5 separate regions of the Homo sapiens genome follow, and regions 2, 3, 4 and 5 are each linked to region 1. Evidence: fine-mapped expression QTL. A gene starts in region 1. Each other region holds a variant in brackets. All regions are shown on one strand. Distances are between the middles of the regions.

Region 1 (6,464 bases):
TTTAGACACAAAAACAGTAATTTTGTCACTGTTTTAAAGTATATTTCTGGCCGGGCACGGTGGCTCACACCTGTAATCCCAGAACTTTGGGAGGCTGAGGCGGGTGGAGCACTTGAGATCAAGAGTTCAAAACCAGCCTGGCCAACATAGTGAAACTCTGTCTCTACAAAAAATACAAAAATTAGCCAGGCATGCTGGCATGTGCCTGTAATCCCAGCTACTCGGGAGGCTGAGGCAGGAGAATCGCTTGAACCCAGGAGGGGGAGGTTGCAGTGAGCTGAGATCGCACCATTGTACTCCAATCTGGGCAACAAGAGTGAAACTCCATCTCAAAAATAATAAAGTATTTCTGATATTGCAATGTGGTTAATCATCCTAAAACTATATATTACAAGTCCCAACAAGGCTAACAGTAGGGTGACATTATGATGTGGTCCCAATTCGAACATTTTGATAGTGAAAGGGGTTCTATTAAATAAAATAATTGTGCTGGAACAATCAGGCTTTATACTACGACTGTCTCAGAAAAATTAAGATACTATAGTCACCCATAAAAGCACCCCATTCTGATTTGTATATTATGAGCTATTCTCTCCATCTGATTTAACTCGTGAGCTTTAAGTTATTGCTCCAGATCTAACAATTATCTTCAGCCTTAAGACCAAGAGCATCATTTTTTTTTTTAAAGAGACAAGGTCTCCCTCTGCAGCCCAGGCTGGAAGCCTGGCCTGACCATGATTCACTGCAGCCTTGAACTCCTAGGTTCAAGAGATCCTCTGGCCTCAGCCTCCCAAAGTGCTGGGATTACAAGCATGAGCCAACGTGCCTGGCCCAAGGGCACCATTTTACAGACATCAGGCCAAGGTTAAGGGTGCTACCGCTACCTATAAAGGTTTTTTATTTGTTCTTTTAGTTTTATTTTCAAATTTGACTTTATATACACTTGCTTTAAAAAAAAAAAACAGATGCACATATTTCAAGTAAAGTAATTTTGTGAAACATCTATTACCTAATTTCACTTATCTCTCCAAAAGATTTGGATAACCATAAAACTAGTTCTAAAATGTCCTAATGCTCAAGAGTTACAATTTTTCAAATCGCTTTATTACACAAAAGGTTAAAAAAGAAAAAAACTTGAATAAGAGCTGGAAACTTCTCACTGAAAAACCAACCAAAGTGGTAAAAGATAGCAGAAACCGACAATCACAAAATAGTACAATAATGTTTAAAGAAAACTCCAGTTAATACTGTCATAGCTCTCTGAATCTGGCATTAGCTGTACAACCTAGGAGACAACGTTTTGCTTTAATTTGTCAAGATGTAAATAAGTACTAACAGACCCATGGTCTGAACTGCAGTATTTGAATGAAAGGCATTATTTGAATATAATTACAATTCCCTATGGCAATAAATGTTCCAAAGAGCTGGCTTATCTGATTTAAAACTCAACCATATCAAGACTCGGAAGGACTCTCAAAATCTAAATTGTAGCCCTGTGCTGTCCAATGCAGTAGCTACCACTAGCCACATGTGGGTATTTAAACGTAAATCAATTTATTAATTTATGAATAAAATTAAAAATTAAGTTCCTCAGTGACACTTATCACATTTCAAGTGCTGAAGAGCCACTGTGCCTAGGCTACCACTAGTGCCTAAAGGCACAGATTATGGAACATCTCCATCAAGGCAGAAACTGCTAGTGAAAAGTGCAGCCCTAGACTTAGGCATACTTCGCTCCAACGTCCCGAATATCCTGAGATAAGAAACTTTCCATAGCACAATGAAGAGCATTCCATTCTTGCAAAGTACTCTCACGAACTGTTTCTCATAGGCAAATTCAGCCTCTTTGAAACATTCACCAGAAATTCCCCAAGTTTTGTCCTTCAAGTAAATCTTTGCAGGGCGAATTTAATTCCTCTTCCAGAGTCTGCCCTTCACATATACTAAGACCCCAGGTCCTCTCCTTCCAAATACATACATACATATATACACATACATATACTTATATACACACATATGTATATACATATATATACACACACATTTCTTTCTACCGAAATAACTTAACATTTCTATTAGCCTCTTGGAGAAATGCTAATTTATCCACGTGTACAGTAATACTACGTCCAGGATCGTCTGAGTGTCAAATATTACATATCACTGTCTTCATAACTTCACTCTCACGTGTGAGACCAAGTGTCCTGATTCTCTGAGAAAATAAGGTCACAGTCATTCTGAACTCCTAAAACGTGGAGAGCAAAAGCAGAGCTAATATGTACTGAGCAGCACCTGGCGCTGTTCTAAGCGTTTAACGTGTATTTTCTCATATAATCCTCACAATTCTGAAATAGGCTATAAGATCGCCATTTTACAGACCAAAACAAGGCAAAGACAAGCTAAATAATTTCCCCAGGGGTCACAGACGTGAGCTCACCCCACAGAGAACACAGCGGATCTTTTCCTCTTTCTGGATGCTACACTCCCACTAACTACCTAACTCTTCTCTCGCCGTGCCATAAAGCAACAATTTCCCTCTTTAATGATTCCTCCGGCAGCCCCCACACTACCTAGACGACCCGCGCACCCCGCTTCTCAGCACAGCCCAGCCCCCCTCACCCCACGCCCACCCGCCAAAAGGGAGGAGTCGAGAGGCAACTCCACGCTCGGCAGCGGAACCAGGGCGCTGCGCCCGGCCAGCGCCTCCCACAGCCGCCCTCCCTTCAACACTCCGGCGTAGACCACGAAGACCCAGGCAGCCGCCCTCGAGCCGGGGCCAGGGCGTGGCCGGCGCGGGGGCCCAGCGACGCTGGGATCTCCGCTCTGCGTCCCTCCCGGCTCTCTGACGTCTCCCCCGCCCGAATCCCCGCACCGCCCCCCGCAAGCCCTACAACCTCTGCTTTAAGAACCCTTGGAGGCACTGCTGCGCTTCCCGCGAGGAGAATGTGGGGGTGGAGATGGTGCGGTTTCTGCTGCTGCGGCCCGGGACACGCTTGGAAAGGGGCGGGGTGGGGGACTGAGAGTGTGGAGTGTAGAAAGGGAAAAGGTGACTCGGCTGTGTGACGGGGCGATGGGGGGGGTACAAGATGGCGTGAGCCCGACTCTCGGTGGGGCGGGGGTTGCGGAGACTGAGGAGTAAGCGATACGGACGCCCCCCGCACTGGCAGTGCGGGCGCATGCGCGCTTGGCCAGGTGGCGCGCGCTCTCCCAGCCCGAGCGAGCTACTTCCGCCACGCTCGCCGGGGGCGGGGCGTTGTGCGCGGCCTTCAGGGCCCGGCTTGGGCAGCGCTGAGCCACGCGGCGGCGTTTAGAGCTGGGGACGCTGGGAGCGGAGTGGGGACGAGCTGAGATCGGTCAGGGTGTACAGGGTGCAGGCTTGAATTCTTTAGGAATTGGGCCCGAGAGGGCTAGGATTTTTGAAGGATTGGGTGACCGGCACTGGAAGTTGATTTTCAACTCCGAGGAAGAGATTCACCGTTCTAAGCTTCTTTCCAGGAATTGGAGTGAACGGGATCTTAATGGGATTGCGCGTTTACAATGGTGAAGGGAAACGGAGGGGTCTGAACGCTCCCCGCAGGGCCGCAGTACAGGCGTGTGGATGTGGAACCCTTTCTGGGACGGCGAAACCAGCTCTTACGCCGCTTCCGCGCGCCATCACTCCCTACCCTGACCTCGCACAGAATCTGTTTCATTAATCTGCTATTAATGTTTTTTCCCCAACTCATGTTACTAGACGCAGGCGTTTAACTACCATGTTTTGTTATTGAAAACTTTTTCTACTTGAAGGCTTTTTTTTTTTTTTGGACGATTCTGTGTTTAGATTTTGGCCTGTTCCTCATTTTAAAATCTTGCACCCCCAGTATTGTACTGTACATTCTGTCCTGCCACATTTAATTGATATAGATGTAGTTCTTTAAATAATACAGTAGTCGTAAGACAATGCTTTCAGTCTTTCACTCTTTATATTATATGAAGTCTTATTTATATTTAACATTCTTATTGCCTGCTTAGAGAAGAAAACTGGTTATCCATGCTCACCTTCACACCTGTGTTGTCAAATACTATAAAATACTGTATTTTATAGGGATTCAAGTATTAACCCTCACCAAGTCTTTTTAAGCATCACTGCTTCAGTTATTTTCTTGCCTATAGATACTGTGAGTTCTGAAATCCCTTCCTTCTATTTGCTTAAATTGTTTAAAATAGCAACTTATTTGGTTATTTCCTCTGTGGATTGTAGTTGAGTCTGCTAGTGTTGTGTTTGATTCTCTTTAATCTCCCCAACGCTTCAATATTTGCCAAATACCTAAAATTCCAAAAGAATAGATATATTTAGGATGTGAGAGCTCAGCTTGATGTGTAAATCAGGGATCAATTCATTGCTGAGCAAAGTGTGCAGTATAAGGGAAAGTAACAGAGTGAGTATGGTGATAACTTCTTACATGGGAAGACTGGTTGAAAGCTCTTTTGAGTACATTACCAAGAAATTAGTTAACAGAAGATTAAGAGAAAAATTAATGTTCACATCTAAAGAAACATAAAAGTAGATCATTTCAATTAAAATTATGTTCAGTTAATGTTATCATAGAAGTTCCTGCACTGGAGTTTCACCTGCATCAGATGAGTACCTGTTTGATCCAGTTTATCAGGATAGAATCCAGATCATCTTATTCTAGGATACTGGTGTCCAGCCTGCATAAAATCACACACAGGCCAGGCGCGGTGGCTCACGCCTGTAATCCCAGCACTTTGGGAGGCCGAGACGGGCAGATCACAAGGTCAGGAGATCGAAACCATCCTGGCCAACATGATGAAACCCCGTCTCTACTAAAAATACAAAAAAGTATCCGGGCGTGGTGGCACGTGCCTGTAGTCCCAGCTACTCGGGAGGCTGAGGCAGGAGAATCGCTTGAACCTGGGAGGCGGAGGTTGCAGGGAGCCGAGATCACGCCGCTGCTCTCCAGCCTGGCAACAGAACTAGACTCCGTCAAAAAAAGAAAAAAAAAAATCACGCACAACAAAAGTTAATGAGAGTGACACATGGAGAAGGGAAACTGAGTTAAGGCATTGATACAGGAAGTTTAAAAATTTATTCTTAGGAAACTGAATTGGGCTGTTGGCAGAGATCTGATTTTTAAAGTCACATGAGTTAACCAGGTTCCTACCTCCTGGAATTTCTTAAAATCCATTTTTGAAAATCTGATTTAGCCATAATTTTGCTCATAGTTTGAGACCATTGCTATATACAAAGGGCCAAAAATATTTTTGCATTACATTCATATCAAATATCCTAAACTATCAATGGTACTAGGGTATCTTAATTATAACAAAGCTAAAACAGCGAAGCTGTTGCTGAAGTTAAGGCTTTGATGACTACCACCTCTCAGAAAAACAAGTGATTTTCCAAGGCATGTGGGGAAAACACATCAGGAGACCAAGTTAATTTATCACTCCACAAAAATGTCTCCATGACCTGGACAAAATTGTTAAAGAAAAATGAAGCATTGTTAGCGTAGACTTTAACGTTCCTCTGGCATGTAATATTCACGTAGACTCACTAGTGCAAAGAGAAAGTGCATGTATCTAAGTAAAAGTGCCCATGGGCATCTTAAAATGATTAGGTAGTAAGCCCACATTCTCAAAAGAGCAGCAGAAGTCATGGCTAATATGGAACCATCTCTCTGATTCCATGGAAGTGGTTTCTTTTTATTATTATTTTTTGAGACAGAGTCTCGCTCTGTCACCCAGGCTGGAGTGCAGTGGCCCGATCTCGGCTCACTGCAACTTCCTCTTCCCCAATTCAAGCGATTCTTCTGCCTCAGCCTCCTGAGTAGCTGGGATTACAGGCGTGTGCCACCACGCCCGGGTAATTTTTGTATTTTTAATAGAGACGGGGTTTCACCATGTTGGTCAGGCTGGTCTCAAACTCCTGACCTTGTGATCTGCCTGCCTCGGCCTCCCAAAGTGCTGGGATTACAGGTGTCAGCCACCGCACCCGGCCAGAAGTGGTTTCTTCTCATGTGGATGCTACAGTGACAGTTCAGGTGACTTGGAAATTCTTTGTTGTTTGAGATTCATAACTCTTACTTGCTAGGATGTTTGTGGGGACTTTTTATTTTCTATTTATCAATTATTTCATCCTTTGCTATATTTGCCTTCTATTTTTAATGCTTAAGTTGTCACCATGGAAATAAACTGGGTAGATTGCATATTGTTTAGAACCGTATATTGCAATTGTTGCTATATTTGTTTTCTGACGTTGAGAACTGTTTTCCAATTGCATTCTCAAAAGTATCTTGTTTTATGTTTAGAGCAAGTTGTTCTGACCAAAAAGATTACTCAGCCCGGTAGTACCTGAGCAAGTCACTTAACATCATTGCACCCCAGTTTTTGTATCTGTGGAATGAGATGATAGAACCAAATGAACTAAAACCTTACAGCCCTAAAATTCTATGTTCCTTCAAAAT
Region 2 (6,464 bases), 260 kb before region 1:
CTTGACAGGTGCACAGTGAAAGTATGAAACAAACAAGGGCATTCATGAGATGAAGTTAAACTTTTTATTCTGTATACTTATACTGGGATCCAGGAGGATGAATGCTGAACAAAACCATTGGATACTGTTTTAAAAAGACAGCAGAATTTATGACTAACACTTTTAACATTTTTGCGCTATGTATAGCCCAATACTATCTAAAATTAGGGGAGATCCTTCAAATAGACATCTATTAAAATATACAATAAACGTCTAGTCATTTTGCTCTCAAAAAACAACAGAACCCCTTTTCAGTGCTTTCTAACATCAGCTTTTTTTAAAAAAAAAAAAGGAGAAAGATTTCTTAAAAATGAAGGAGCTTTACTATCTTATGTTGAATCCACATGTGACATCTTTGGTTAGTAATCTATGCCAAGATGCTACCCAAATATAGCAATACTCTTTTAATCTCTCTATAAATTCTAAAGCATCATTTCATTTGCTAAAATCTTTTGCTAACCTCTGGACCCTATGTAAATGCATGTATTTGATGATGTATCAATTGACCTATTCTCCTCACATCTACATATCCCCAGCTGTGAAAGGCAGTCAACTCCAAACTCTTTTAATGGCATAAACTGTAAGGGGAAAATAAATACTTTTTGAGAAAGTATATGTAATGTGTGTACATATGTGTGTGTGTATTTCTTTTCAAGTTATACAAATTAATATAATAACAAAACAGCATAAAATAAACACAAAAGAGAAATATCAAAGGAGGTAAGAAATAAAACAAACGATACTTTTTTTTTTTTTTTTTGAGACAGAGTCTCACTCTGTCACCCAGGCTGGAGTGCAGTGGCGCGACCTTCGCTCACTGCAACCTCCACCTCCCGGCTTCAAGCAACTGTCCTGCCTCAGCCTCCTGAGTAGCTGGGATTACAGGCGCCCGCCACCATGCCCAGCTAGTTTTTGTATTTTTAGTAGAGACAGGGTTTCACCATGTTGGCCAGGCTGGTCTCGAACTCCTGACCTCGTGATCTGCCCACCTCAGCCTCCCAAAGTGCTATGATTATAGGCTTGATCCACTGCCCCCAGCCAAAATGGTATTTTTAAAAATATATTTTATTTATTGGTGTTAGAAAATCTTTTTGCATTCACTAACATATATACATTATTGTTATCAGCATGACCAATCACCCTAGTTTGCCTGGGATTGAGGGGTTTTCCAAAGTGTTCCCTACCAAGTAAATCAGTCTAATTAGTACTAGAAGGTCATGGCATACATTCCCCCCTCCCTCCCCCCCGCAAAAAAAACAAGCAAGAAAACAGTTTCATTTGTTAAGGGAATGAATTAACAATAAATAAAACTTGTATTTTTCCTTTCAAACAATTACCCTTATTATTTCAGTTCTAAAGTCTCAAAACAGAAACAAATAGCATATGGGAAATTTATTCCTTCATCTGAAGATAATGCTTTTCTATTCTCTGATGTTGAGGATGAAGTTCATGAGAGTCAGTGGATGAGTAGGTGCCCAGCTGACATCTCACTGTAGTCACGGCCCCCCCACCCCCACTCAGGGAAAGAAATAGCACCAAACTAAATGACCAGCCAGAGATTTGAGCTCAGAAAAATGGATGAAGTTCACAGGGCTTGTATCCAACTAAAAAGATTACAATAATGCTGCTAGAAGTCATACTATATTCTGGCCGTCAGCTACAAAGTAGGAAAAGTCAGTAACCATGAAAATATCCTGGAAGTTAGAGGATCTGGTTCTAGTTCCCACTATGCTATTAAGAAGTACTGCAATGAGCAGGTAACTTCTCCTGGCACCTCAGTTTCTCAGCAGTAAAAGGAGGGGACTAGATTAGATAATTTTAAAGAAACCTTTTCAGAAACTTTATTTTGAATCAAATATATCTGATTCAACTATAATTCGTAAATCTTAAAGACTGTCTTCAAGAATGGGGCAACACTGTTATGAGAAAATCAAATTGCACAGAGTAAACTGTGGGAAAATCATGAAATTAAGAAAAAGAAAAACATGTTAAAAATGAGTAACAGAACGAAATAAATAAATAAAAATAATTAGAGGAAGGAAAAGAAAGCTATAGTTTATCCCTGGCCTTATATGTGGAAATAATTTCTAAGAAACATGTCATTGTTCCTTAAATTTAAAAAAAAAGGTGGGGGGTGTTGAACATATTATCACGGAATTTTACATTATTCTTTTTCAATTAAAAGAATTTAACAGGCCTAACTTTGAGTCTAAAATACTTGTTTTTAAATTTCCAAGCCCTGATTAAGAATAGAGGGGAAGGACTGATTAAGTTTCTAACAGAGGGGAAGGACTGATTAAGTTTCTAACAGAGGAGAAGGGCTGATTTAGAGGGGAAGTGCTGATTAAGTTTCTAACAGAGGGGAAGGGCTGATTAAGTTTTAATTAAAGAGATTCTGAAAAAGAAGCAAAGGGGATAAGTTTGGTGATGATCTGTGGACAGCCTGCTGGGCCAGTCACCAAGCATACAAGGCCTACAAGCAGATCTACTCATAAAGCATCTAGAAACCAAACATAAAGAAAGGATAAAGAGATGTTTCTTTACTGCCATGTGTACATCTTCTTGGATGCTGAGTTGCTTTCAATACTTCCCACTGGCTACAGACTCTAATGTGGTTAAATCATTCTGGATACTCTGGTTAAGTAATTGCTGTGGTCTTGGGAGCTAGTCACTTTTTTTTTTTTTTTTAATTAGTTCTGGTTTTTTTGGATGTTTTCCTACCCCAGGTAATTGACATTACTTTAGAATGGACACTGTGTGACTATTGCTTGGTTTAAGAAGGCTCTGGGTAACTTGCTGTCCCCAAAAGAAAG[GT/G]TTTTTTTTTTTCCGTTCAAAGCATTTTTTGATTACACTTTTATAGACTAGGTATTACTATAATACCCAAGAATTTCTCCTAAATGGAATTAGAGTGAATACCAGGCTACAGCCCTACCATACACTTTAGTCAGCTAAACTAGTACTAGATGATGTATGTGAACACAGACATCATACTGTTGTTTATGTCATTCTTACCCAATATCTGTTGACACTGATTTGTCCACTATCCAAAGTGGGGAATAAAAGTGCAGAAGTTTGGCCGTGATCAGTCATTTAATGCAATTGGAAAGTTATAAACACTACAAATTAGCCTTGCTCTTCAAATTTTAACAGCTCTTTCACAAATCTATGATTTTACCCACCTGTTTTCAAAGGAAGAAATGAATTTTATTAACAATAGCTCTAAGAAACCCCAAGTGATAGGTAAATCAAAATATCAAATAAGGCTGGGCGTGGTGGCTCAACCCCAGCACTTTGGGAGGCCAAGGTGGGTAGATCACCTGAGGTCAGGAGTTCCAGACCAGACTGGCCAACATGGTGAAACCCCATCTCTACTAAAAATACAAAATTAGCTAGGCATGGCATGGTGGCGCATGCCTGTAACCCCAGCTACTTGGGAGGTTGAGGCAGGAGAGTCGCCTGAGCCTGGGAGGCAGAGGTTGCGGTGAGCCGAGATTGAGCCATTGCACTCCAGCCTGGGCGACAGAGCAAGACTCCATCAAAAAAAAAAAAAAAAAAAATCAAATAAACATCTAAGACAACAGATTTCCTAGCAGTGATGATTTTTCTCATTGCTTGCTTGATTTCTCAACAACCATTTCCCCATTCCCCTTCTGATAGTAAACATTCATATAATTTAACTGAACTTTGAGAAAACTTTTAGAATTTTACAAAACACCATGAAATAAATATAAATATGTGAAGATATATAAAAAGCAAAATTAAATTATTTATGATATAAAATAAATAATGCTGACGTAAAAAAATACAAATATACTAATATACATATATGTTTAAAATAAAAGATAAAACAGTATAAAATTTTGAAAAGGTAAACACATAATACCTACAAGTATTAATCACTCAATCAACAAATATTGACTGATTGCCTGGTATGTGCCAGGCACTGTTCTGGTTCCTTGGAACATATCAGTGAACAAAACAGACAAAAAAATGAGTCAAGTTTACATTCCGATGAGGAAAGGACAATAAACAATATAACTAATGAATTACTAAATAAATAATTTGTATGTTAGAAAGATGAGAGAAAAAAACTTAGAACAGAATCACGAAATGTATGCAATGGGCAGTGTGAAATATTAAAACATGTATTTATTAAGATCTGATGTGTGAAAGAAATAGCTTTAAATAGAAAAAATATATAAATCAGAAAATTTTTTTAAAAATCAAGATTTACATAAGAAAGCTCATCCATAAATATTTATAAGAAAGCTCATAAAATAAAACTCATCTACAGTGCATGAAAATGTGCATCTGAGAAAGTTTACAAAACTAGCAGAATATCTTTATGAATTTCTTCTAACAATTTACAGGGCATTTTTCCTCATATATCCTACATTTCTAAGAAGCAAATATTCCCATCTTCAAACTCTTAATAGATAGCAGCATAAAGCAAATTATTATAAACCGTCCCTATTTGAGGAACAGGAAAGATCTATATAGCAATCATTGAATGTTAGGTCAAAAAATAATCTAAAAGATTACGTAGTCCTTTCATTCAGTTTTAAACAGATGAAAAATGAAAGCCCAAGAGGTTAAATAGCCATCTCAAGGTCATAAGTCCAGTTAGAAGTAAAACTAGGACTTTTACCTCATCCAGAACTCATTGTACAACAACACGCTAAATGAACATCTATTAAGCCTCCAAAACATTTAATGGACTTTACTATCTTAGATTGACTGAAATTTAGTCAAAAAACTAACTTCCTATAACATTGAAAACAGATACACTGTAATCACAATAACACCTCATAGTCATAGAGGACTTTTCTCACCTATCATTTAAAGCAAACTGTAAAGCATGCAAACAGGAAAGTTTCTCCCATGTTACATAAACATGGAATCAGAGAGAGTCAAGAAAGTTAAGACATTTACCCGGGGAGTCAGCAACAGTAAGCGTCAAGATTACTTGGTATGAGATAGTCACAGAGATAAGAGAATTTTGTACCATCAGATCTTTAGAAAATTATCAATATAAAATGGATATAAATATGGCATACTGCAACAACATTTTTCAGATTGACAGTGTCCAGAAGAAAAAGTATTTTGTAGTTAAATGAGCTTGGAAAATGACATATTTTATTCTTTTCTAGATTTGCAATACATGTTACCATACTAAACACTCTGAGAGGTTCTGAAGAAAAGAAACTCTTGATTTTAAACGTATTTACTGTGTATATAATCCTTTTCTAAGCCCATGGAGTTACATAGCATTGAAAAAAAATTAGGAAACACTGATTTAAACAAACAAACAAAACAACTTCCAAAATAACTTAAGGACTTTAGTGAGAGGATTCCAAATAAAATGCAACCTAAGATTTTAGAACTCCAAAGCCAAGTTCTTCAGTTTCTAACAATGACATGATGATGGTGGTGATAATGGCAAACATTGTGAGCTTTTTAAAAATGCACTTACATTCAACGAATATTTATTGAATACTGGGTCTACATCATGTCAGGCACTGAATATTATACTAGCTGAGAATTTTCAAAGTTCCCACAAACTTAAAGACATGACTGATTTTCTGTAGCCATGGCAATAAACAGCCACCAGAACCAGGAACAGACTCATTCCAGTAAACACACCCTTGAGTGCCAACCAATCAACAACATTCTCATCTCTCTTATTATAGATTATGTCAACTCCAGAACACGACCAATCCCTGAACTCAATGCTTCCTGAAAACCCAAAAGATCAGCAGCCTTCCTTGCTAACAAACTGTGCTTGACCGGCATGTATCTCTCCTTTATGATAAGAAGAAATAAATCAAGTTTTCTGTTTTTATTTCAGATACTGAATGACAGGCTCGTTATTTTTCACAGCATTTAAGGAAGTTTGCCCTCACAAACTAGTCAGCCTAGCCTCCCTTCCTCTCCTTCTTCTCACATTTTATTTTGAAAGATTCCTAACCAACAGAAAAGCTGAAATAACAGTGGAATGAACACCTGTAAATCCTTCACCTAGAATCACCAATTATTAACATTTTAGCACAACTGCGCACGTTTCTCTCTCTCTCTTAAAAATTATACACACATACACTTGTATCTTTATCTGTATTAATTTTTCTTTAAACAGTAAGCATGTATTAAGTGCCAGGTATATTTATATATGTCATTTAAACCTCTTAAAGACCCTGCAACACACTATCACTATGCCTGTCCCTCTGCATCTTGGAGAGATATTTGTTCCAGTAAGTGAAATTCTGGGTTTTTAAAAATTAATTTCCATATGCTGGGATTAGCTTTGTCCCCTGGAACTGATGAAATGACAAATCCTTTTACATGACAGGTCTTCAAAAGTATGAAGAAAGCTTACTTTAAAGGTCTGGTTTTGTTTTGTTTTTGCTAAACAGCATCTGTTTTAAACA
Region 3 (6,464 bases), 590 kb before region 1:
TCTATTCCCTTTAGAGATTGGGTCTCTGTCTGTGTTTTTCTATTTAAAATTAAAAAGTGGTGACACCCCAGATCCCTTCTGAGATCAGCAGGAGACACCGAGGCCCCCTACTTCCAGGTTCACCTCCCAGAAATTCTCCCTAATTAGGCCCTGCATGAAAACACAGAAATGTGCTTTGCTTTCCCCGCTTAAAGTATATTTTTTTCTTTAATACAACATCAAAGAAACATTGTTTTTGGGAGGACTTATCCAAAAATTTTACTAGGTATATAAAGCAGCCATTATATACTCTCCTATAGAGAGGGAAAAGGAAAAGAAAGAGAAAAAGGAAAAGATTCTCACTCCGCAAGACTGTAAAGGGTTTCTCAAGCAAGGGCAGGGCTAACGGGGACCAGCCTGGAAACAGGATCCCTTCTGTCCCAGGGCAGCCACTTGGAATTCCTAGTCCTCATCAGGAATTGGGATGTAGCTTAGTCAGTGAGGGTAGAAACTGAATTAGAGAAGAAATAGAAAATCCAATTGCTCATGAAGGAATCCAGACTGCAAACAATGCTAAATGCTGCCTCCCTTGTCAGTCCACATATGGATAACTGCAGAAATGAATGTCCCAGGGGCCCTGGCTTAATGTTTCAGGCTCCTGCCCTTGGCATCATCTAACAAAGAGCCCGTAGCAGGTTTGCACTAAAGAGCTGACCCTAGCAGTGAATTCCTAAAGTACCAACAGTTACTGGCTGGAAAGCAGGCAGCCTGGTGGCATGTGGGGGGCAAGATTCCCCTGACCTTGCCTTCTCTCTGGAGTGCGGAGTGCATGTTTGGAAGCTTCCACATTAGCATGGCTCACATTCAGCACCAGACCCTGGCCAGGGTGGCATGGGCAGTGAGCACTGTGGCCACACACATGTGAATGTAGGGATGTGTATTCCCTTGATGCCCTGCCCCTACTGCTGAGCAAGTCATCTGGAAGCACACAGACATCTGCCAGTTGCTTTAACAAAGTATGTTGGCAAGTGATCCATCTAGTAATATTCCTGGCTCAGTAGACAGTAGTGTACAGTAGTTAATAACCAGTACACTACATCACTAAGAACCAGCTATGTCACCTACCATCTGGGATACCTTTGGCAAGTTACTTAAGCACTCAAAATTTCACTTTCCTCACCTCTGAAATATAGATAATAAAGGTTCCTAAATCATATGGAGGGTGGCTGCCTCAGTGAATGGTGATCTCATTCCTCCAGTTCGCTCAGGTCAAAACCTGGTTGATCTCCATGGTCCTTCTCTCAGACTCCATCTACAATCTAGCAGTACATCTTGCCAGCTCTGCCTTCAAAATATCAACATATATTCAGGATCTTACCATCTCCATTGCTCCTCTCTTGTTCAAGCCACCATCATTTCTTGCCTACATCATCTTATTAGCTTCTTAGTAAGTTCTCCATTTCTACCCTTGCCCTCCTGCAGTCTATTCTCCACACAGCAACCAGAGTGATTCTTGTTAAAACATAGTTAGTCTTTCTCTTGTATTACTCGCTCTTGGGGAAGTTAGATGTCATGTTGTCACGACACTCAAATAGCCTGTAGAGAGGGCCATTTGGTGAGGAACTGAGCCTCCTGCTAACTCCCATGTGTGGGAGCCATCCAGCTTCAGTCAAGCCTTTTAGTGACTTCGGCTCCTGCCAACATTCTGACTATAGCTACATGAGAGGCCCCAAGTAAGAACCTCTCAGCTAAACTGCCCCTGAATTTCTGAACCACAGATACTGTGTCATAATAAATGTTTTGGGGTTAATTTGTTACATGACAATCAAGAATACAGGTTTTTGGTATCTGCAAGAGGGGGTTGCCATAACAAATACCTACAGAAGTTGAAGTGGCTTTGGAACCAGGAGGTAAATGGAAGCTGGAAGGACATTAAAGAGAGTGCTGCTGAAAGCCTGAAGTGCCTTGAACAGTCTGGATGAGAAGGCTGCTGATAGGCCCTAACAGGAACAAAGGAACATGTTACTGGAAGCTGGATAAAGGGAAATCCTGAATACCTAGTGGCAGAAAGGGTAGCAAAAGTGTCACCTAGAGTCATGTGGAAATAGAAAATGCACCTAATGAACTGTGTGATCTAGTAAGGATATTTCCAGCTAGAGTGTTAGAAGTTTCACCTGATTCATGATGCTTCTACTAAAATGCGACAGGAGGGAGATAAGCTAAGAGGAGTAAGGACTTGTGATTTAGACACTTCCTAACATCTCTAGATGCCAAATGATGCTAAAAATTAAGAAATATCTTTTAACTAAAGATCAAATCAAGGGCACTGCTGGGAAAACATGGTCCAAAAATAAAGCTGAGGCTGTGGCTGTAAAATTCATTGTTAAGATTTCAGAAAAGATCTAAGAGATGCCTTAGAGTACCATTCAGATAGACAAAAGGTGCTAAAGTTTCTAAGAAGCTTAAGAGTAAAGCTAACTGATTGCAGTAGAAGCCCAGGGTAGAGAAGGGCTTATCTCAAAGAGATTTATATGTATGTGGCTTTTGTCTAATGGAGAAAACCCCCAATGACATTCATAGGAAAGCTACAAGTTTTTAGATAATAATCACAAAAACATATCCGGCTTGTACTGAAAGGGACAGAATTAGTACAAAATAAATAAAGGCCTTTGGACCACAAAATTCTGGCAGGAATCAGGGTGAGACAAAAAACAAAAATAAAGAAAAAAAGAATGACTCACAAGGGGAAATCAAGAGCACAGGGGCTGGAACTAAGAGCCTGGATGTTAGAGTCAAAATCCAAGGAGAATTGTTCTCTGGCTTTTGACTCAATCAGAAGTAAGACTGATTCCTAATCAGGGAATTTGCCCCCATGAGATTTCAGAATTGCTATGGGCCAGTGACTCCTTTGTACCTCCCATTTCCCCTGCTTTTGAACAGGAATTCCTGTAGAAATTATCCTATCCATGTTCCAACATCAAGTGTTGGGGGAGGAAGGGATAACTTGTCTGTCTAGTTTGAAGGTTTTAAAATCAAAAGTAGCGTATTCAAGGAGCTTGCTTAAGGAACTACCCTCAAAGGAACCCCATGAGCACCTAGACCTCATTTAGATGAAGGGATTCTGAACTTTGATCTGAAGCCATAATGGTATGAGACTTTTGGGAAACTTGGAAAGGGGGAAGTGTATTTTGCATGTGGGAGGGAAGTG[A/C]ATTTTGGAAGGCTAGAGGGTAGACTGGGATAGCCTGCCTCAAAGATGCCCTCCTACTCAGACTCATGTCACTTACAAGTGCCCCTAAGTGTGACTGTTGTACCCCTGACTGATAGTGGGATATAAGAGGCTGGTATCCTTTTGTGTAAGTGGCATACATTTTAGGTGGTAATTCATACTTCAGAGCTCCCCACGGGATCAGACAGACTAGACTTCCTCTGAACCCATTTCTTTGCCTATCTTCTTCCCTTGTCCTATCCTGCTTTATTCACTCCCTCAATAAAACATTTATACACAGAATTCTTGCCTCAGGTTCTGCTTCTAAGAAACTCAACCTAAAACACCTAATAATTATAAAGTGGTGCTTGTTCAAGACATGTTTACTTCCTAATGGAATTTTGGGGCATTTTGTGAAATCGTCATGGATATCAGGAAAAAAAAGAATGAAACAGCCTTAAATCCAAAGTTAAACAGCCTTAAATCCAAAGTTGAGATATTCATGGTTGAGGTAACATTGGCAATCTTTGTTTGTTTTATTTGCTTGTTTTGTTTTTTCTGTTGAACTTGAGGAGCAGAGTAGAGGTAATTGTACTCCCTAGTTGGTAGTACACTGTCTTCACTAGCCTGGGCAAGCCCTTCTCTTGTTGCATTTTATTCCATTTCCCCCTTCTCTCTGACTCACGTTCTTATTTATTCTGAATATTCACCCTAATGCATTGGAATGATTTGGATATCCTTAAATTTGTTTGTATCTTTGTAAAATATGTACTGTTTTGTGTATACATGTTTTTAATTTGCATAAACAGAAATATGCTATAATTTTTGTTCTGCTTCATATTTTTTTACTCAGCACTGTGTTTTGAGGACTATCCATGTGATTATATGTTCATTTAGCTCATTGCTTCTTACTGTTGCATGATATCAGCTCTTTAAGTTAATTTTAATATAGTCAAGTTTGTCAGTATGATCCTATATAGTTTGCATTTACCTGTCTTGTTAAATAATTCCTTCCTGGCTCTGAGATCATAGAGATAGCCTCTCCCATTGTCTTCTGAAAGATGTAAACTTTTGCCTTTCACAGGTTTTTAACCCACCCAAAGTTGGTGTTTTTTTTTAATGTAGAGTGTGAGGTAAGGCTCTAAGTTTATTTTTATCTCACATAGATAACACATTGTCTTAGTTATATTGATCAGTCCACCCTGCAATGCCTGTTTTGTATTGGGTTTGGTCCTGGGTTGATTATTCTCTTCCACAGGTCTCTTCGTCTCTTCTTGTGCTAATACCGCACTGTCTTCATTTTTATAGCTTTATTGAAAGTTTTGATATTTGGTAGGACAAGTCCCTCCATTTTGTTTTTCATCTTTAAGTTATTTTTGACTTTTGTTCTTCCATATAAATTTTTAGAACCACCTTGTTTAGTTGCTGTCCCCCTGCCACCACTGTCATATACACACACGTAATGAGATTTTGCTTGCACTTGCATTGACTGTGCATCAACTGAGGAGAATATTGACAACTTCAGGATCTAGAGTCTTCCTATTTAAGTACAGTCATCTTAATTAGGTCTTTTTTGTATCTCTTAATACATGTTTATAACTTTATCTGTAGAGGACTTTCACATCTTTGGTAGATTTATTTCTGGATATATTTTTGTTGCTATTCTAAGTGCAGTGTTTTATTACATTGTCTAGCTGTTTTTACTGGAATATAGAAAGGGAATCAGCTTACGTATTAGGTTGGTGCAAAAGTAGTTGTGGTTTTTGCTATAATATCACTTTTAAAGTCTATTTTATTAACTCTAATATTTATCTCAAGATTATTTTGAGTTTTCTAAATGGAAAACCAAATCATCTGCAAATAATGGTAATTTTGTTTCTTTCCAATCCTGACATTTCTTTATGTGTCCTGTGGAGATGGCTGGACAGCATTGAACAGGAGTAGAAAGGGACAGCCCCATGTTTCTGCCATCACAAAGGGAGGGCTTCTGCGATTTCAGGGAATGCGTTTGCTGCAGGTTCTTTGTGGATATTCTTGATCAGATTCAAGAACAGGTCTTCGGATCCTAGTTTGCAAAAAGCTTTTGTTTTCCCATTGTCAATTTTTGAATTTTACCTAATGCTTTATAAGGAATTCATTGCTTTAAAAAGCAATGAGATGATCATAAGGGTTTTCCTCCTTTAATATAACATTAATGTAATGATTTATTAATTGTTAATATAATTATATAATTAATAGATTCTAACTTGGCCAGGATGTATTGTTTTAAAATTTATTTCTAATAAAATATTTGTTTGCTAATCTTTTGTTCAGAATGTTTGGAGTGAGATTGTCCTGTAATATTTTTGCTTGTACTATGCTGTCATTTGCATTGATCTCTTTTTAGTCTCCTCGGTAAATTGGAGATGGGAGAATAAATTGCTCTTATTCCATTATTTTATTTGTATTGGAATGATCAATTCTTTAAATGATTTATAGAAGTTACTGTAAAGCCTTTTGGACTGTGGTTGTCTTTTTACTGCTATTTTAAACTAGTAATTTAATTTCCTTAGTACTTATAAGATTACCCTGGTTCTTTATTTTTGCTTGAGTCACTTTTGGCAACTTGTATTTTTCTAAGAATTTATCTATTTCATTTTATCTGAATTTTTAAATTTACAGACATAAAGTTGTTCATAGTATCCTCTTATTATCTGTTAATCTCTACAGGATGTGTGGGTCATGTTCCATTTTTCATTCCTAAAATGGAGCGCTTTAGCGCCCTTTTTTTCTTGATTCATCTTGCCGAGGTTTACCTTTTCTAAGAACCCGCTTTTGACTTTGTTGATTCTGTTATCTATTTTCTGGTTCCTTAACTTCTACCTTAAGTTTTATTTCCTGCTTTCTTCTTCCTGTGGGCTGAGTGGTTCTTTTTCTGACTTCTTAAGTGGGAAGGCTGTCACTCATCTCGGTCCTTCCTTACTCTCTGAGGTAAGCATGTACAGTGTCCTGGCCCGTGCGTTGCTCTTAGCTGCAGTCCTGAGTTCTGATATGGTATGCGTGCCCCTCATTTTTCTTATCCACTCCCCTAGAGGTTAACATTTGGGATTCTCTTAACTCTCCATCACCAAAGTAATACCACACAAACATTTCTGTACATATCCCCTTACCAAACTGTGTAAAAAGGATTGCTTGAGCTTGGAGAACCCCATACTTGGTTTTCTTTAAATATTGCCAGATTTCTTTGCAGTGCGACTGTGCCTGTGCCCATTCCCACCAGTGGTTCCTGTGTCCTCACATC
Region 4 (6,464 bases), 32 kb before region 1:
GGCTCACACCTGTAATCCCAGCACTTTGGGAGGCCGAGGCGGGCAGACCAAGAAGATCAAGACCATCCTGGCCAACATGGTGAAACCCCTTCTCTACTAAAGGTCCCTAAAGTTGTTCACTTGATCTGTTTCAGAGTTCTGATACTGAGTGAAGAGCACCTGGTAGTTTACTCTTAATTCTGAAGGACTCGAGAGACTAACAGAGATCATCTAATCTATAATAATTGCACCTCCAAAAGGCAGCTTTTCAAACCTGAATAGAATTTTCACATTCATACACCCCTCAGTTTACCCACAATGACTGATTAAGAGAGAAGGTCCTATGTACATAACTCTCTCTTGTAAAAAATGCCTTCAATAATTTGAGACATTCTGCAAATTATTAAGTTGCATAACAGTACGAACTAGCTACTAGTCTATATTTCTTCATGTTGTCAATGATGTCTCACCACAAGCTTGTGAAAAGCCTTGATGAAGTTTAAAAATGGTGTCTCTGTCCCATGTTCCTGAGACAGCTATCCAGTAGCTCTGATGTAACACAGAAGTTTGTGAGGCATGACTACTGCTGAGGAAAACCATTTGGCTCCAACTACTCACCTTCTAGGTGCTTAAAATCATGCTTTTAATAACCCATATTAGAATCTTAGCCATCAAAGACCTCCACCTGACAGGTCTACAGGCTTTCATTTTATAACCAGTTGCCCTTGATATTCTATACTAGTTGTTTACTGGTAAAATATTTTACAATCACAGGTGCCTATTCCTGTCTTTTTTCCTCTCCATGACTACTAATTGAATAAAACAGAAAATATGAGACAATTGTATATATGAAAAATTGTCAAACTAAAGAGCAATTCAAATTCCTTTTATTCGGAGAGATAAAAGTTGATATGAAGTGGATATGACAAAGAGAAAGAACATCCACTAAATACTTAGTAGTATACAAAGAGTTAGACCATGACAAAGTTCCTAGAAGTTTAGCTCCTCTGCAGGGGTTTCTTAGACTACTTGAACCAGAATTTTCAATCTTATTTCTTATACAGTTGGGAACCACTTCATTTATACTTGGCCTAAACTTCCCCTTGTCTGTATACTTATTTTTGCTCTCCACCCTTAAAACTGACTTGCCCTTAGCTATAAACAATGTACTTTGTTGCCCATTCATGCAGTGCTTTATTGTTTTCATTCTCTGATGGTTTTTTTTTTCATTCATGTCCAAATGAGCAGTGCCTTAGATTCTAAATATCCAGTGGAGAGCCCATATATGTACATTTTCCTTTGAACGTCTAGAACAGTAACATTATCAATTAAGTACTTAACTGCTTTACGATATGCACAACAAAAACTATTAAGAGGCCACAAAAAGCTATGCCTACCACAAATTTAAAACCCATTAAAAATCAGGAATGTCAAAAGCATGTTAACTTTTTAGGTAAAGTGTATAAACTAGCTCTTCATGGTTGGCTAGGAAAGCCTAGAGAAAAAAAATCCTAAATATGAAAGGTGAGTCTGCCTTTAAGACAAAAGAGAAATATACTTGGTGGACCTAAAAAAGAAGGCCACTTCAGAAGTTAAAAATGCAGTAAGCCAAGATTCAGACTATGACAAGGGAGACGGTAAAACTAATGGTACAGAATTTTTAAATCCCTGAAGTTTAAGGGACTCTTTACAAGCAGGATAGTTTAGTAGTTGCCATGGACTATGCTCTGAAGCCAAGCTTCATTCTGGTGAGTTTAGAAATCTGTTTCACCTAGCTGAATCAGAATTTAGCAAACTGATTTATGTAACAAAAAGGCTGTACATTAAAACGTTCCTCATGGGATGAAACAGAGGAGAAACTACCCACTCATCTGCGCTGCCTCACATGGATGTTTTGAGATTTAAATGAGATATTAATACAAGATGTCAGAATACTTATAAAAATCTTTGACACTTTATAAAAATATCAAAGATAAGCTATTACAATTTAGTATTATAAATAAAACTTCTGTTCACTTGATTGTTAAAGACTGTAAAATGTCATGCTCAAATGACATGTTTTCCTATTTGCTATGAGGTTGACAGTAAAACTTTTGCCCCATCTCAGCAACCAGAGGGACTTTATTATATGCATCTCTGCAGACTTTTACCTTCTAGATTAATTTTGTATCTCTATTCCTTTCAGGCTTCATCTCAATTTCCATTTTTTAATCCTTTAGTATTATAAATAATTATGATAGACTCCTCAACCAGGATACAAATGATAAACCAACGCTCAAACCTGCAGCTTAATGGCACGATCAGCTTGCTAGTCCTCTAAGATAGAAACCTTGGAATCATTTTTGGTAACTAATTCTCTAATCTCATAAATCCCCAAGACCTAACAATCTAACCTATGCAATATCACTTACACTTGCTTGCTATTCTTCATTCCCATTCCCTCTTACATGGACTACTACAATAGGTCTTTCCACAGCCAACTCATTTTACATGATGCATTATCAATTCTTCTTAATGAGTATCAATGCACACCGTACCTTTATCTTTCAAACATTTTTCAAAGGTTTCCAATTGTCTTTGAAAAAGACTTAACTCCTCAGTCTGCCAAAGCTTGCCACATTTTGATACTAATCATGTTTTATCTGTATTTTCTATGACCCAGTTTCTCTCTAGACACAGTAAGCTATTTGCTCCAAATGCCTCATCCCTGCCTCTGTGTCTTTGATCATGCTGTCTCCCGTACTTGCAATATTCCCTACCTATCCTCACTGTCACCCTACCTACAAATCTCTACAGGGCTAAATATTGCCTATCCTTGAAGAAAAATCTCAAACGACACTATTTTCACTGGCTTTCATCCTCCAAATTGAAAACTCTCTGATCCACCTCCATATTCCTATAGTAGCATATCTGTAACTCTTTTCACATACTTACCTGCATCTACCACCTGTCATTCTCTCAGTTTCTATGTGTGTAAGATTCTCACTCTACTTATGTATATATGTAAATATATATAATTCTACTAGACAGGTGATACTGAAGTTTTTAAATTGCAAAATCCATTGTTCATAGGAAATGCTATGAGAAAGCCCAATAAATAAAATAGATTTTTAAAGGAGTCTACAGGGTTGAAACGAAGAAGGGTGAGAGGGTAGCTAGAACCTCGCATGCCCTCCTGAGCAGCCCCACAGGCAACTTCATTAAGCACAGAGATACAATACAGTACACTAAACTACACACTCTCTTGGTAGCACAGATACACAAGAATTCCCTCTCTCCCACTCTTACTTTCTTTTCACATCATCTAGCCAAATGCCTGGCATATAATAGGAATTCAATAAACATTT[C/CT]TTTTTTTTTTTTTTTCTTGAGATAGGGTCTCACTCTATTGCCCAGGCCAAAGTGCAGTGGTGCGATCTCGGCTCACTGCAACCTCCACCTCCTGGGTTCAAGCAATTCTCTTGCCTCTGCCTGACTAGCTGGGATTACAGGTGCAGGCCACCATGCCTGGCTAATTTTTATATTTTTTTAGTAGAGACCCAGTTTCACCATGTTGGTCAGGCTGGTCTCAAACTTGACCTCAGGTGATTCGCCCACCTTGGCCCCCCAAAGTGCTAGGATTATAGGCGTGAGCCATCGCGCCGGGCCTCAATAAACATTTCTTAAATGAATTAATGAAACATTAGGTGGAAGTGGATGGACAAATAAACAAGTGCCTAAACAAAAAGTAGGAGGACTTAGCAAAGGGACGTGGTAACAGCTAAAGAAATACTATATAAGAAAAGAAAATGCCTTAAAAATAACTTACATGGCTGAAAAGAGAGGTGGTACTTTATATAATTAAAAATTGAACACATTTTAAATAAAAATACCCCACAAATATGTGTGAGTTTACTATCAAAGAAAGAAGCTAAGACTAAAGAATTATTTACATGTATCATATTAAGATAAGTGAAATAATGGGATATCTGGCTAACATCTAAATTTAATTTATATTCAACACCTTAGAATTAAGAGATATAGTAAATTAAACTACAGTGAATAATTAAATTTCTTTAAAATGAATTCGATTTCACTGATATATATATGACTGTTAGGGAACAGTGTTCTGATTTTAAGATGTATTTCCTTCTTTCTCAAGTTACAAATGTAAAGTTCTGCAATTGTATTTAAAATCTTTTGGTGGTAGATGTACACAAAAGAAATACCTCAACATAAATCACTATGGCACATAATGAACCCAAAAGGAATATCCATGTATCATTATAGGCAAGATGTTAAGTTTGAGAAAAACAAAATCTGACCTTTAATATATTTTTTAAACTGGTTAATAAACATAAATGCAGCAAGGCTTACATTCCATATATTTTTAAATTCCCCAGCATTCTTGGGGTCTGTCTGCAAAAGCAAGGGAATATGCACATGACAGAGAAAAAAATTTTAAATAAAAGAAACATAATCCTGTGAGATTATTCCCTTTAAATAGAAGAGTGAAATCCAAATACTTTATTTTTCTACATCCAAAAAAGAACTTCACAATTCTTTTTTTTAAAAAAAAAAGACGTATATTTCATTAAAACACTGTTTGTCTATTTATCAGAGAATAATTCTGTATTCACATTGTAATTACTATTTTTAAAAAATACTACATGCCTACTGAAATAATGAAACAGAATGTCAGTATGGTTACCTGTGAATGAAAAAATTATTTCCCTCCTTGGTTCTAGAGATTCCAAAATCTCAAACAAATGCATTACTTTTACAATCAGAGAAAGTTTAAAGTTATATAAATAGGTATGTATGCATGTGTACACATGTGTGGATATGTGGATATGTGTATGTATCCCTCTAAATGGCCTGCTTATGTCTAGCTTATAGTTTTTACGTTAAAAGCAGCACCTTTCTCATTTCCATAGAAATGAGAAAAAAGGGGCATACTTACATTATTTAATAATTAAGAAAATAAGTTTAAATCTAATATAACATAGCAGTTAAAAGTCTGACTCTGGAGTCAGAAAGACCAAATCTAATCCCAGTTCTACCACTGAATAGCTGGATGACTCTGGAAAGCTATTTAATTTCTATTAAAGAAATTCTAAATTCTAAAAAAAAATTCTCTACCATTAGTTTTATCGTCTCCTCATTTTCTTAATCTAAAATTTGGCAATAGCCAGGCACGGTGGCTCACGCCTGTAATCCCAGCACTTTGGGAGGCCGAGGTAGAAGGCTCACTTGAGGTCTAGAGTTCCAGACCAGACTGACCAACACAGTGAAACCCCGTCTCTACTAAAAATACAAAAAAAAAAAAGTTATCCAGGTATGGTGGCGCATGCCTGTAGTCCCAGCTACTCAGGAGACTGAGGCAGGAGAATCACTTGAATCCGGGAGGTGGAGGTTGCAGTGAGCCAAGATCCCACCACTGCACTCCAGCCTGGGTGACAAAGTAAAACTCCAACTCAAAAAAAAAAAAAAAAAATTGGCAATAATATCATTCAACTAACAAGGCATTAAATGAAATAATATATAGGAAGATGTTAGTGCACATTACCTATTTAGTGATGGAAGTGATATTTCCTCTTCCCACAACTCTGTGTAACCAAAATTCCTATCGATCCTTCATGTTTCAGCTTAAATGAACTCTCTTTGAGAGGCTTTAGTTCCCCCATTACACTATCTCATAGTATCCTGTACATTTTCCTTCAGAGTCCTTATCACAATTTATAATTATTTATTTCCACAAATGTATACACAGTTCATGGCACACCACATGTACTTAGTAAATGTTGAATAAATGAATTTATGAGTGGAAAGAGGTTTATAATCTTTCCACTGGTATCATTAAATTCTGTCATTACGTAAATCAGTGGGATCCTGATTATAAATGTTACTGCCTATAATACAAATGGGGTATTTAAATTTCAATTTAGTTCTTCTAGGGACAACTACACTAGAGGGGGAAAAAAGAATATCGCTAGTATTTCAGTCTACTTCTACATATTTAAAGTCACAATTATGGAATCACAATAATTCTCTATATTTTGTCCCACAATCTTCCATTTAATGAGTCCACTAAAATAAGGATTAAGAAAAATGTGGGTTCTTTCTTGGCTTTCAGTTTACCTGCTGAGTTTTCTTTAAGTCACCATCTGCTACGGCTATGATTAAATTAGCTACTTATTGATAAATCGGGGCACTACAAGATGACATTATATAAAAGCACTAGTTTTCCAAGTATGGTCTCTGGATCACCAACATCAACATCACCTGGGAATTTATTTGAAAGGCAAATTGCTGAGTTCACCCTTGATTTATTCAATCAGAAAGGCTGGAGGTGAGACCCAGCAGTTTAATGGTTCAGCAAGGCTCTCAGGTGATTCTAATGCACACTAAGGTTTGGGAACCATTGCACTGGAAGATTCATTTTTTTAAGTCATAGGTTGTTTCACTGGTTTTCATCAATTTGCTGCTCTTTATATTTCATCATTAAA
Region 5 (6,464 bases), 530 kb before region 1:
AACAGCCAAACACACACACACACACACACACGCACACACACACACACACACACACACACACACATGCACAGAAAAAGAACAAAGTTGGGAGGAGGCACACTACCTAATTTTAAAGCTAAAGTAATCAAGTCAGTATGGTATTGGCACAGATAGAAATGCAGATCAGTGAAACAGATGAGAGAGTCCAAATAGACCTACACGTTTTTGGAGTATTTATTTTCAGCATAGGTGCCAAGATAACTCAATAGGGAAAGGACAGTCTTCAATATATGATGCTGGAACAATTGGACATCCATATGCAAAAAAGTGAACCTCGATTCTTACCCCATACCATGTACAAATATTAACTGAAAATGAATCACAGACCCAAACACAAGTAACCATAAAAATTCTAGAAGAAATAGGACAAAATTTTTGTGCCCTTATAAGCAAAGCTTTCTTAGCTAACATACTTATCTGTAAAAAAAAGATCGATAAATCAGACTATGTCAAAATTACCAACTCAAGAGAAATGAAAACATGTCCATGTTTTATAGGTGAACATTTATATATTTTTATGTAAACTTTATTCCTAATTGCTCAAAACTGGAAATATCCCAAATGTCCACTACAAAGAAACCAAATGCGGTACACCCATAGAAGGGAACACTCTTCAGCAATAAAAAAGGAATGTATTATTGATATATGCAATAACACAGATGAACTTCAAATGCATTATGCTAAATGAAAAGAAGTCAGACTCAAAGGGGTACATATATACAATTTGCATTTGTATGACATATTACAAATGGGAAAATTATAGGGTCAGAAAACACATCAGTGATTGACAGAGCTATGGATGGTAGGGGTAGAGGACTGACTATAATGAGATGTCAGGACATCTTTTTTGCAGCAATGGAAATGCTCTAATATTTTAATTGTGATGGTGGTTTTATGGCTATATACATTTGTCAAAATCATCAAACTATATATTTTAAAAGAATGAATTTTATTGTATGCAAATTATAACTCAGTAAAATAAAACAACAAAACCCCCCCCACAATAATGCTTTTGTTGGAGATGGTCAGGATTTGTACATCACAGGCAGGATGTACTTGTTTGGACTTGAACAGTACTAGAAATGAAACACAGCACTTAGTAAGTTTCCAAGTTGTTAGTTTTCTACATGGCAGCACACTACATGTTCATTAGAAAGTCCCAGTTGAATAGAAAAATTATATGACTAGAGTTCCTTAAGACCAAGGTAAACTGTGTATATAATTATACAATAAATTCCATTCATTTTGGCAAACATTTATTGAATGCTTACTAGTACCAGACACTGGGGTAGAAACTGAGTGGGAGAAAAACAGATACGTGAGGCATAAAACAGGGTCTCCTGGGACTCACAGGAGTACATCTAAGCCATCCATTCATAAGCTATCATTGTGAAGTGATATACCAATCACTAGACAGCTCTGAAATGGCATTTCTCTATGGAGGGCTTGAATTCTAATTCTGAAGAACTGCTCCTTGATAAAGGTATATGAAGTAGCAGGCTTTCAAAAACTGTTTTGGTACTGGTATGGAAGAGGGGCAAAGAAGTGCTGGGAAGAGAAGGGTGGGTCCCTGGTGAGGGCTCCACCCTAGGGCCTGTACCCACAGACCTAGGTGAGGACAGGCACTTCTGCCCAAATGTTGCATTTCCCAAGACCACCCTGGTCCACCACGCCCCGATCCTGTGCCTATAAAAACCTGAGACCCTAGTGGGCACACACACAAGCGGCTGGACATCAAGAGGAACACACTGGCAGAAGAAGACACAAGAGGCTGGATGTCAAGAGGACGTTGAGGGGAGCTCGCTGGCATGAGCCCAGGCCACTGAGCAACCCGACACCAGGGGAAAATATCTCCCTTCTGGCTCCCCTATCTGCTGAGAGCTACTTCCACTCAATAAAACCTTGTGCTCATTCTCCAAGCCCATGTGTGATCTGATTTTTCCGGTACACCAAGGCAAGAACCCTGGGATACAGAAAGCCCTCTGTCCTTGCGATAAGGCAGGGGTCTAATTGAGCTGACTAACACAAGCTGCCTATGGACGGCTAAACTAAAAGAGCACCCTGTAACACACGCCCACTGGGGCTTCAGCTGTAAACGTTCACCCCTAGACACTGCCATGGGGTCAGAGCCCACAGCCTGCCCGTCTTTATGCTCCCCTAGAGGTATGGGCAGTGGGGCACTGAACAAGCGAGCCACACCCCCACTGCATGCCCTGTGAGGGGGAGAAGGGAATTTTTCCCATTTCAGTACCATCCCTGATCCTTTGTCCTTTTCATCACTTTGCCTTCCAACTTTGCACTCACTCTGCTCTGTAACTTTAGGCTTGTCAATCATGAACTTTTCCTCAACTTAATGCAAAAGGCTAGTTAAGGATACCAACAGTTCGATTTACTAATCTCTTCAAGAGTTACACTTACGCATATTTCAACAAGCTAACCACACAGATAGTGACAAGAGGCTCAAAGGTAGTTCAGACACCAGACAACCTTACAGTTGAAGGGAGGAACCTCAGAGCCCTTCAATAAAGCATGTGCACCAGACTACAGAAGAAACAAGGGAGGTTTTAGAAGGGAAGGAGTGGGAAAAAGGAGGTAAGACCAGGATAGATGTCTATATTGCAGGAAACTGAGAAGGGTCTTTGGAGAGAACAGGGGAGGGCTGAGCTTTCTGAACATTTTTGTCTTTCCCAATTGAATTTTTTTTTTTTTCTTTTTGAGACAGAGTCTCCCTCTGTCGCTCAGGCTGGAGTGCAGTGGCGCAATACTGGCTCACTGCAACCTCCGCCTCCTGGGTTCAAGCAATTCTCCTGCCTCAGCTTTCTGAGTAGCTGGGATTACAGGCATCTGCCACCACATCTGGCTCATTTTTGTATTTTTGGTAGAGACGGGGTTTCTCTGCTGGACAGGCTGGTCTCAAACTCTTGACCTCAGGTGATCTCTCCGCCTTAGCCTCCCAAAGTGCTGGGATTACAGGCGTGAGGCACTGTACCCAGCCCCAGTTGAAAAGTTTTTTGAAGACTAAAACAATTTCCACATCAGGGATGGAGTTTTTAAGGCTTACCGTTTGACTTTCTTGGCTTTTTCTGTGTTTAAACTGGAAAACACATAAATGTGATTTTTCTGTTTTCAGTAATTGATATTAAGGATGAGATTGAATCCTTGGGCACAAATCAGGACAATGCTCTGAGAACTGGACCCTTAGCATCACAATGAAAGACTAATATTTTTTTTCTTGTATTTTAGTTTGGGACTGTGCTAGCTACTATATACTTTTCCAATTGCTGATACAGTTATTTTGTTAGGCATAGAAATGACCTGAGACTACAAGTCTGGTCACAATCAAAGTGTCTACACATTTCATGGAATCAGCCATGATTGGTTATAACAACACAGATTAGCTGTTACTTAAATATTTACTACAGGGAACAAGAATTGTGAAAACAGCACTTACACTTGTGTTTACGTATACCTATCGCCACTTGACTCATTCTATAGCTATCATATTACTGGTTGAATACTAATTTTTAAATGGAAACTTAAACAGTTATGGGAAG[AT/A]TTTTTTTTTTTTTTTGAGACAGAGTCTTGCTCTGTCACCCAGGCTGGAGTGCAGTGGCACAATCTTGGCTCACTACAACCTCCGCCTCCCGGGTTCAAGTGATTCTCCTGCCTCAGCCTTCTGAGTAGCTGGGACTACAGGCATGTGCCACCATGCCCAGCTAATTTTTGTATTTTTAGTAGAGATGGGGTTTCGCTATGTTGGCCAGGCTGGTCTCGAACTCCTGACCTCGGGTGATCCACCTGCCTTGGCCTCCCAAAGTGCTGGGATTACAGGCGTGAGCCACCACACCCAGCCTATGGGAAGATTTTTTAAATGCTCTGTCTTTTCTTCTCCTGCTCTTGTCACTGGTGAGATGTCAACCTAAGCTACTATAGACTATTGTTGGAGATGTATGGATTCCACTAATTTTCTTTACCATTCATTACAGAAATATTTTCTTCTAGTGTTGACAGTTATCTCTGTGTCTTTTTTTTTTTTTTTTTTTTTTTTTTGAGATGGAGTCTGGCTCTGTTATCCAGGCTGGAGTGCAGTGGCATGATCTTGACTCACTGCAACCTCTGTCTTGTGGTTCAAGTGATTCTCCTGCCTCAGCCTCCTGAGTAGCTGGAATTACAGGTGTGTGCCACCACACTCAGCTAATTTTTTTTTGTATTTTTAGTAGAGACGGGGTTTCACCATGTTGGCCAGGCTGGTCTCGAACTCCTATCCTCAAGTGATCCACCTGTCTCAGCCTCCCAAAGTGCTAGGATTACAGGAGTGAGCCACTGTACCCAGCCTGTGTCTTCATAACTAGACTTCTGGAGGTCTTTTATTGATTTCTCTAGCACGGTGACTTTTCTCAACACTGGCTGGTTGTACATTAGAGCCACTTGGGGAACTTTTAAATATCCTGAGACCCACTGGCACCAATTAATTTCTGGTGACAGGCCCCAGGCATCAATTCCAAAGTTCAGCCAGGGCAGAGAACCACTAGGCTAGGGAGAAAAATCAAAACCTTATTTGTCAGGTTCATTCCTAGTTTTAAATCTCTGTTGTCTTTATTCTTGTGATAAGAACAGTATTAGAGTAATAGTCTGTGTACATTTGTTGTGTGGATCTCTGCAACTGTCCTTTTCTAATGAAGGTTTTCCTGTGAGCTGACTTACAATTATAAGAGAGTCTTTTCTATTACAGACCAATAGATATTATAGAGATAGGCAAGGTACTTCTACAAGCATTCTCTCATGTGAACCTAACTGTAATTCTGGAAAGCAGGGGGGATTACTATGCCCATTTTAGATGAGAAACTGTGGCTCAAAAAGGTTAAATGATTTTTCTAAATTTCGTGGTTCAATGACAGACTCAGGACTCGAAACAATGACATCTAACATTTAACCTACTACACTTCCTACTACTTCATTCCCCCCAACCTTCCTTTGAAGGAAATCAGAAGTGAATAAGAGACGACTTTCTTTTTAAAGGCATTTTAGTCTAAATAAACAACTGATAAAAACACTACCTTATAACTTTAATTTCAACTCCAATGTGACATTATAGGCTAAGTCATAGCTGAAGCACTGGGTACCATACATGGGAGCAGTTTAACGTAATTTCATGAAGTGCCTAGAATATAACATATGGCCAACAAATATTTGTTGAATAAATTTACAAACTTCCACTTGTTTCTTGCCATGTATATGACTTTTCTATAGGGCATAGCTGTAGATATAAGCACTACAAATGAATACTTTTTTTTTTTTTTTTTTTTTTTTGAGACGGAGTCTCGCTCTGTCGCCCAGGCTGGAGTGCAGTGGCGGGATCTCGGCTCACTGCAAGCTCCGCCTCCCGGGTTCACGCCATTCTCCTGCCTCAGCCTCCCAAGTAGCTGGGACTACAGGCGCCCGCCACTACGCCCGGCTAATTTTTTGTATTTTTTAGTAGAGACGGGGTTTCACCATTTTAGCCGGGATGGTCTCGATCTCCTGACCTCGTGATCCGCCCGCCTCGGCCTCCCAAAGTGCTGGGATTACAGGCGTGAGCCACCGCGCCCGGCCATGAATACTAATTTTTATTCTAGTTTGATCTGCCTATAATCATGAGGATCTGGAGAAAGGGTCAGAAAAAGTAACTAAGCATTTAGGCTGAATTAGTCTTGCAGGAAGACAAGGACAGACTGATGGACAAAAAGAGACACAGACATAGTCCTCTATTCTTCTGTCTGGAACAATAATCTCAGGAAATAACTAAATATGTGCAGGAGAAAATATTAACCAAAAACAGCTTACAAGACCTACACATTGAATTAAAATCACTGGGCAGGAAAAATAAAGGATAGCTATTCCAGCAGATCAACCAGATGTATGGCCTGAGTACAACTGTAGAGGCAATATATTTATACATTTATAAAAGCGAATTCATACTGTTGGCAATGTATTTAGCTGGGGAGAAGACAGTTACTATGTATTTGTAATAATGCCCCCAGGACACCTGGCCTGAGGACCACCACTGGCTGACATTTGGAGCAATGCATAGATACCACTTCCTCTTCAGACATTCAAGTCTGAGGAGTTGCAGAGTGGATATGAGGCCAAGAACTGGTCAGAGATGATGACTAAAATCTGTGAAACAAAATGCTAGTTAATGGTAGAATAACTTCCAAGAAAAAGAATCAACAATTTTAAAATGCTACTAATGTAAGAATGCACTAATGATCAGATTAAATTTTAACCAATAAATGATTTAAGGAGGCCTAAGGGACAATCTCCTTATTGAAAAATAAAAACTTAAATAAAATAAACAGAAAATTGTTTGAATCACAGTTCCCCTCCACTTCCCCCTAACCTTTTTTTTCCTGCTTCCTTTCAGTTTCTTTAGTCTCTCAGAAATT

Alleles and levels. Alleles are on the strand shown, and positions count from the first base shown. SD is a standard deviation of normalised expression in the study named. Not every link is listed here.
For the expression in prefrontal cortex of the gene that starts at base 3,058 in region 1, CT is the high allele of the variant in region 4 and C is the other (moderate effect, 0.53 SD a copy in CommonMind).

The links.
Region 2: its variant is fine-mapped to the expression of SUPT3H in whole blood (INTERVAL, PIP above 0.99).
Region 3: its variant is fine-mapped to the expression of SUPT3H in whole blood (TOPMed, PIP above 0.99).
Region 4: its variant is fine-mapped to the expression of SUPT3H in prefrontal cortex (CommonMind, PIP 0.95).
Region 5: its variant is fine-mapped to the expression of SUPT3H in whole blood (INTERVAL, PIP 0.99).

The regions. Positions count from the first base shown.
Region 1 is chr6:45,374,877-45,381,340 of GRCh38, forward strand. It overlaps SUPT3H (SPT3 homolog, SAGA and STAGA complex component), which reads right to left and starts at 3,058. Exons shown (of 11, transcript NM_003599.4): 1 at 2,892-3,058. All of the region lies in intron 2 of RUNX2 (RUNX family transcription factor 2), which reads left to right. RefSeq lists silencers at 2,700-2,979, 3,300-3,349 and an enhancer at 2,990-3,533.
Region 2 is chr6:45,110,252-45,116,715 of GRCh38, forward strand. All of the region lies in intron 2 of SUPT3H (SPT3 homolog, SAGA and STAGA complex component), which reads right to left. Among named protein-coding and RNA genes, the nearest start is that of MIR586, 84 kb to the right of the region's middle. The variant GT/G (reference allele first, on the strand shown) is at 2,853.
Region 3 is chr6:44,781,512-44,787,975 of GRCh38, forward strand. The region is part of intron 2 of LOC101929770 (a long non-coding RNA gene); the gene reads left to right. Among named protein-coding and RNA genes, the nearest start is that of MIR4642, 350 kb to the left of the region's middle. The variant A/C (reference allele first, on the strand shown) is at 3,188.
Region 4 is chr6:45,343,241-45,349,704 of GRCh38, forward strand. The region is part of intron 2 of SUPT3H (SPT3 homolog, SAGA and STAGA complex component); the gene reads right to left. All of the region lies in intron 2 of RUNX2 (RUNX family transcription factor 2), which reads left to right. Among named protein-coding and RNA genes, the nearest start is that of RUNX2, 18 kb to the left of the region's middle. The variant C/CT (reference allele first, on the strand shown) is at 3,327.
Region 5 is chr6:44,843,896-44,850,359 of GRCh38, forward strand. The region is part of intron 10 of SUPT3H (SPT3 homolog, SAGA and STAGA complex component); the gene reads right to left. Among named protein-coding and RNA genes, the nearest start is that of MIR586, 350 kb to the right of the region's middle. The variant AT/A (reference allele first, on the strand shown) is at 3,594.